Homo sapiens: one gene and its partner. The protein of the gene in region 1 interacts with the protein of each later gene in a pairwise test. Each region holds a gene or a part of one and is shown in the gene's direction. Other genes may lie near its edges.

Evidence for each region.
Region 2: the proteins of GRAPL (region 1) and ZNF76 interact in binary tests that used the Homo sapiens proteins (3 or more experiments, as listed by UniProt).

What each region holds. Positions count from the first base shown.
Region 1 is NC_000017.11:19,155,059-19,158,873, forward strand, and holds part of GRAPL (GRB2-related adapter protein-like), read left to right. Parts: exon of another isoform or gene 1-3,260; coding exon 3,261-3,318; 3' UTR 3,319-3,815.
Region 2 is NC_000006.12:35,290,420-35,293,609, forward strand, and holds part of ZNF76 (zinc finger protein 76), read left to right. Parts: intron 1-221; coding exon 222-297; intron 298-858; coding exon 859-984; intron 985-1,138; coding exon 1,139-1,318; intron 1,319-2,120; coding exon of another isoform or gene 2,121-2,134; coding exon 2,135-2,368; intron 2,369-2,461; coding exon 2,462-2,625; intron 2,626-3,190. UniProt on the Homo sapiens protein: May be involved in transcriptional regulation.

The sequences.
Region 1 (3,815 bases):
CCAGGAGTTCAAGACCAGTCTGAGTAACATGGCGAAAAAAACCTGTCTTTACAAAAAGTAAAATAATTAGTGAGGCGTGATGGCATGCGCACACCTGTAGTCTCAGCTTCTCGGGATAGTCACAGCTACTTGGGAGGCTGAGGTGGGAGGATCACCTGAGGCCAGGGACACAGGTACATCAAGGCTGCAGTGGGCTGTGATCACACCACTGCACTCCAGCCTGAGTAACAGAGTAATACCCTGTTTCAAAAAAAAAAAAAAAGAAAGAAAGAAAGAACAAACAAAGAAAAAAAACAAAAAGGAAAAGGAAAAAGAAAGAGAGAGAGAGAGAGAGAGATAATCCAGGACTTTTTTTGAAGGGAGAGGGAAACAGGACTGTCTGACACGCGGGAAAATTGCTTGAATTCTCCAGCCTTCCCATTTGGATGCTTTTCTCTTTGCGTGAACACAGCCATAAGCTGGCTCGTTATAGAGGCATAGGCAGTGGTTGAAAATACAGGTCCTAGCAACAAGGAAGTCTGGGTTTGAATCCAGACTCAGCCACTTTCCAGCTGTGTGACCTGGGAGAAGTCACTGTTCCTCTCTGAGCCTGGAGCTACCTGCATCACTACCCTGAACTGATGAATGGAAAGCACTTGGTACAAAATCCAGCACATACTTGGCACACATAACTCACAGCTCGGTGTAATTAGAAGAATGCCAGGAGGACTGGCCTGCACGCTGGAAGGGGCTCTAGACAAGGCTGACCATCAGGATCCACTGGTTGGTCCAGAGATCTCGGAACAGACTGGTTCTCCCCGCCGCTTCTGCCTCCCACTCACCTCCACCCGTTCATGCAACTGTAGTTTTCTTAGCCCCTGAAACCGGGTTGGGGCTGCCGCAGGGGCCATCAGGCTGTGAGGGAGGCTGACGCGGACACAGTAGGTAAGAGGCCAAGATGTACAGTCCTGAAAGAGGGCAGGAGGCTGGTGACTCAGTGGGTGAGAAAATGCAAAGGCTGGGGCTATCTTAGCCCAGAAAAGGACAAATTTTTTTTCCCCAAATTATTTTCCTTCTTTTGTCTCTTTCTCCCCTCCCTCTCTCGCTCCTTCCTGCTTTTCTTCCTTTCCCTCCGTTACTTTCTTTAATCCAAAGGAAATTTAAGTGGAGGACATAAAAGCATATGCTGTTATTAATTTTTGCAAATGTCCTTAACTGAGAGGCACTGAGCAGAAAGAAGAACACAATTGCATCTCCATTATCTTCATCTGGGCCACCAGATACCAGCCACCCACTCTCTCAGACAATGGCAGAAAGGACAAGCCAGCCCCCAGGGACCCGGCCCTGCCAGCTTACCTGTTGGCACACCTCCCCTGAGCACTGCAGCCTCACCAACTGTCTGGGGTCCCTGAGACTGCCTGCTCACACTCACCTCTGAGCCTTCCTGTCTGCTGTTCCCTCTGCCTGGAACATCCTCTCCACTCCCCCTTAGACCCCCTCTAGCAGCTGTCCTGGCTGACTGCTAATTGGCTTTAGGATTCAGGGAGGCATCCTGCCTTGGGTGCCTTCTTTGATGGCCACAGATCAAGTTAGGGGTCTTCTCTGGCTGCTTATCCTCATAGCACCTGCTCCCGGATGTGACAGACAGCTTCAGTTTTGTCACCCTGTGGTCCAGCAGCTTTCTGAGGGAGGGCTGGGACCAGCTCTCATTTACCTGTGTCTCTCACCCCTGCAAGGTTCTGGCCACAGCAAGCAATGCCTAAGCACATATTTGTGGAGTAAAGGTATAAAAGACAAGGCATCCCAGATGGGCGTGGTGGCTCAATCCTAGCACTTGGAGAGTCTGAGACGGGAGGATCACTTGAGGGCAAGAGTTTCAGACCAGCCTGGGCAACCCAGTGAGACCCCATCTCTACAAAAAAAACATATTTTTGTTTGTTTGTTTGTTTGTTTGTTGTTTTTTAATTAGCCAGGCGTATTGGTGTGCACCTGTAATCTCAGCTACTTGAGAGGCTGAGGTGGGAGGATCTGTTAAGCCCAGGAAGTTGAGGCTGCAGTGAGTTATCATCCCACCACTGCACTTCAGCCTGGGCAATGGAGCAACACCCTGTCTCAAAAAAAAAAAAAAAAAAAAGGCAAGACATCAAGACATCCCTGGAGGAAGCCACTCTGTAGACCACAGGCTAACAGAGCATGGTTGAGCAGGGAGGAGTTGGGAGCTGCACCCAGCACCTCACACAATGTTATCATGGAGCTGGGGACAGAGCAGGTTCCAGAGCTGGGTTTGAGTCCCAGCTCCTCCGATGATGATATGACACCCCAGACATGTGCAGGGATGTCCTCTAAGCCTCAGCTTCCTCACTGCAATTTGGGGCTCTGTCTCTTTCTGGCAGGGAGTTATTGGGAAGACCAAATGAGATCATGTCCCCCTCCCAAACCCTGCAAGGCCTTTGCGTCACAGTTAGAATGAAGTCTACATATAGCCCTGTCCACTCGCAGCCTGCCTCCCTTCCCCATTCGCACCCTTACACACGGAGCCCCCTCCAACCTCCCCCCCACACACACTGAGCCCTGTGCTCTTTCCTCTGCCCAAATGGCCCTTCCCTCAGACATCTAGATGTCCATCCTCCTTCCCTCAGTCTGCCTCTCGGAGCAGTCTTCCCGACCACTACAACGATGCCTCCCCAACCCCGGCCTGCGTCACTCCCCACGCCCACCCTGCTTTGCAGCATCGCTCCCTGGCTGACATTACATCATGCATTTATTTCTTTGCTTATTGTCTCCCTCCCCTCCATGAGGGCAGGAACCTTCATCTGTCTTGTTGACAGTAGCATCCCTAGAACCTAGCTCAGGCCTGACTCACAGTGTGTGCTCAGTCCACATTTGGGAAACCAATGGAGAGATGAATGGCACAGAGATGCGCTCAGGAACCCAGTTCCCTGACCTCCCATCCAGGCTGCACCCCTCAGGAGTCTAGGTTCCTGCTGATTGGTAGAGTTCAGGACCCAGGGCTGGAAAGTGTCCACCCACAGGGCAGATGGGCCAAGGCCACGTGCTCAAGGTGTGCAGGGCTAGGAGAGGGGGTCAGCCCCAGCTCCCATATGAGGGGCATGTGCCTCGCCTTGCCCCTGCTTTGGCTAGAGGGTACCCTGTTCACCAGAGATGAGCCTAGGCTCTCCCCGGGCCTGGCTCTGGCTTTACCCCAGAGCCCTCCAACTCGCAGACCTCCAGGCAAGGAGGGCTGGGGACCCACCCGTACCAGCCATTTGCCTTTTCTCCAGTAACAGAGCCCAGAGGGGTCCCTGCCTGGGCCCAAAATCACACAGCAGATTGGGGTAGAGCCGGAGAGGACCCGAGACTCCTGTGCCAGCCTGGGCATCCCCTCCACTGCCAGGGAAGGACTGCATCCAAGTCGCATCCGTACCCAGGCCGAGGTGTCCGAGGCCCAGGCTGAAATCCGGTTGCTGCTGCAGAGACCAAGTTTCCAAGGCCTTGTCAAGTGGGCTGTGCCAGACGATCCCCAGGCCTGTCATTGGCTGCTCTTCGGCTCGGACACACCAAACCTCACCAAGCACTTCCATTTCTGAGGGAATAGAGGTTGTGGCTTCCGTCAAGCACCCATTTACCCCACCCTCCTCCTCCTCTTCCTGCAAACTTGAGTCACAGCTGCCCTGCTGGGCTCAGGCCCCAGGGATGTCTGAGTCAGCCTGGCTGGGGTTCCAGTCCTGACACCGCCCTTACCAGCTGGGAGACTCCGGGAACCTCCAACCCTGCTGAGCCTCCACTTCGACATCCGTGAAACAGCCATGAATAAGCAGGTCTCAAAGGTCGACTCC
Region 2 (3,190 bases), on another chromosome or scaffold:
TTCCCTCCCAGGCTGTAATTCTACCTTTCTGCTTTGATTGGAATTGGTCCCTGCCCTCACGTTGCTGGAGGGAAGAAATGAGGGTACACAGGAATGCCAGCACAGAGCGCTTGACACACATGAATGGTACAGGAGGGAAGAGAATCAGGGTCCTAAAGAAAACCAAAGAGCCCTGGTCATACCCTTGCTCCTCTGAATTATGTGATTGCTTGTCCTCACAGGTGCATGAACGAGCTCATACAGGTGACCGTCCATACAGATGTGACTTCCCCAGCTGTGGAAAGGCCTTTGCCACAGGTAACCTGCCTGGTGGGCTGCTTCCAGTTGAGGGTGGAGGGTTCTCGTTCTGTTTGGGACCTCTCTGAAGGGAACCCAACACCAGGCTGCTTTCCTGGAGAAACTACCGTCAGAGTACTCTGACTTGCAGGGTGCTCTCTCTGGAGGAAACCTTGTTACGGGAGTGCAAGGCAGCATGGTTCAGGCCAGCAGAAGGAGCCTGGAGGGTTGGTGGAGAGACCCAGCCTCTTGTGTCAGCTCTGATGCCAACCAGCTGTGGATTATTGGGTGGGCCATTGCATCTCTCTGGGCTTATTTTCCCCTCTGTGAAACTAGTACCTTTAGCCATGAGTTCTCTAAGTTTCTTTTCATGCTCATGTTCTGGTATGGCTCCAACTGCTCCTGGAGAGGGAAGCAGGGCAGAGTGGGCTTTTCCAGCCCCTGCCCAGGGCAGGGGTGGGATAGAGGCAGACATGGGCTTCTTGAGCCAAAGGAGGTGGAGAGCCTGTGCATGAGGTGGACGGTGGAGGATGAGACCCCACTGGGTGCTCATCTCACCCCCTGCCTGCCACATATGGACAGGCTATGGACTGAAGAGCCACGTTCGTACCCACACTGGTGAGAAACCATACAAGTGCCCAGAGGAGCTGTGCAGCAAGGCCTTCAAGACCTCAGGAGACCTGCAGAAGCATGTCCGTACCCACACTGGTATGCTGGGCCCTGCCCACTCCAACCCCATTCCCTGGGCAAAAGGAATTCAGCTTGCCTTTCAGACTTAGACCTGGAGCCCAGTGCCATCCCCAGCTTGCTCCAGCATGGCCCTCTTTCCCACACCCCTCCTCACATCCCACCATTTGCATAGGTGAACGCCCGTTCCAGTGCCCTTTTGAGGGCTGTGGCCGCTCCTTCACCACATCTAACATCCGCAAGGTACATGTGCGCACCCACACAGGCGAGAGGCCCTACACCTGCCCGGAGCCCCACTGTGGCCGCGGCTTCACCAGCGCCACCAACTATAAGAATCACGTGCGCATCCACACAGGTGGGCTAGCTGGCATGCGAGGACTACCCTCACTCAGGCCCCAACCCCTCTACTGTAGGCTTCCCATCTAAGACACATTCCCAACTCCCAGCCCAGAACCCTTCTGTGCCAGCCATTCCAGGCTGGTCTGGGGGTAGGGTATCCCCAGAACAACTCTGCTTGCAGTGAGTAATTCCTCAATTTCCAGTTAGGTCCAATCTGAAAGGTATTGCCAGTCCTCTCTGGGGTCCCTCAGCTCCCTACCACCCCTCTACACCCACCCTGAGTTCTCCAACTCTGACTGAACTCTTGAAAAGAGGCCAGGGTCAGGAATGATGGGGAAGAAGCAGAGTGAACTGTCACCTTCAACTCCTCACCTTATCCGCCGTCCATGACTCCTGTGTATCCTCACCCTCCCCAGTGTTATGCCCCTCATCCAGCTTTCTGTGTTGTGTCTCAGCATGTGTGTCCCCTCTTTCCCATCACAACTGATACTTCAGTCATCCTTGCCTCTTGCCTCTGCTGTTCACCATTCTCAACCTCCCACCCTCAACCTTATAAGCCCCAGTGCCCCCTACCAGCCCCTTCACTAGCCCCAGCCTTGCCCTGTCCCCCGTTTCCTTTCCGCCTTGTCTCTGGATTCAGTGGTTCAACACCTGTGTCCTCTCTGTGTTCCACTGGCCATCTTCCCCAACCCTGTCCATTCAGAGTCTCAGGTCTCAGTCCCTCTCCCTCCCTCTGGCTCTCCCTTCACCAACCCTGTCCCTCACCCCTGTCCCCTTAGTTTCCCCCTTGCCAGCCCCAGTTCCCACCCCCCTCACAGCCCAGTGTCCCCAGGGGAGAAGCCATACGTTTGCACGGTGCCAGGCTGCGGGAAACGCTTCACCGAGTACTCGAGCTTGTATAAGCACCACGTGGTGCACACACACTGCAAGCCCTACACCTGCAGCACCTGCGGCAAGACCTACCGGCAGACCTCCACCTTGGCCATGCACAAGCGCAGTGCCCACGGCGAGCTGGAGGCCACGGAGGAGAGCGAGCAGGCCCTCTATGAGCAGCAGCAACTTGAGGGTAAGGGGAGTGGGCAGAGGGTGAGAGTGGGGACAAGCCAGGCCTCCCCATGGCATCTGGTAGCAGATGTCAGCCTTGGCTCTCCTCTCCCAGCCGCCTCTGCAGCCGAGGAGAGTCCGCCACCCAAACGACCCCGGATAGCTTACCTTTCGGAGGTGAAGGAAGAGAGAGATGACATCCCAGCCCAGGTGGCGATGGTGACTGAAGAAGATGGGGCCCCCCAGGTGGCTCTGATCACTCAGGATGGTGCCCAGCAGGTACAGGCCCTGGAGGGCAGAGGTGCCATACTAGCTGGCACTCTCCACTCTCTCTGGGGACTCTGGGAGCCCTGAAGTTCTGACAGCCCCACTGCCACCCAGCTTCTTGTTTAAGTTTTATAGACTTCAGAGGCTGAGGCTGAGGAGACCACATCTTGCAGCACAGCCTCTCCTCCTCCTGTGCTTCCAGCTCAGTCTCTGGGGCTTCTAGAGCACAGTTAGTAGTTTCTCTCTTTACTTGGAGGCTGACAGGTCCTGTTCATCTGAACAGGATATGGGATGTCCTTCTCAAGAGAGGCATGTTCATATAGCAGCCAGAACATGGTATGGGGTCTGAAAGCCTGGGGTCTGGTCCTACTAGTGTACTAGCTAGCTATATAACCTGACCCTTGTCCGTACCCTTGCTAGAAAGTACATCTGTGCTTTCTAGAGTTGTTAGGACACAATCAGGTGGCGACCCTGAGCTGGATACAACAGGGCCCAGAGGCAAAGTGGTGATAAATAGAAGTAGTCAGTGGAATTCTTCTAGTGTGGCCTCTCTTTGCAACCTTGGACCCATTTTGTT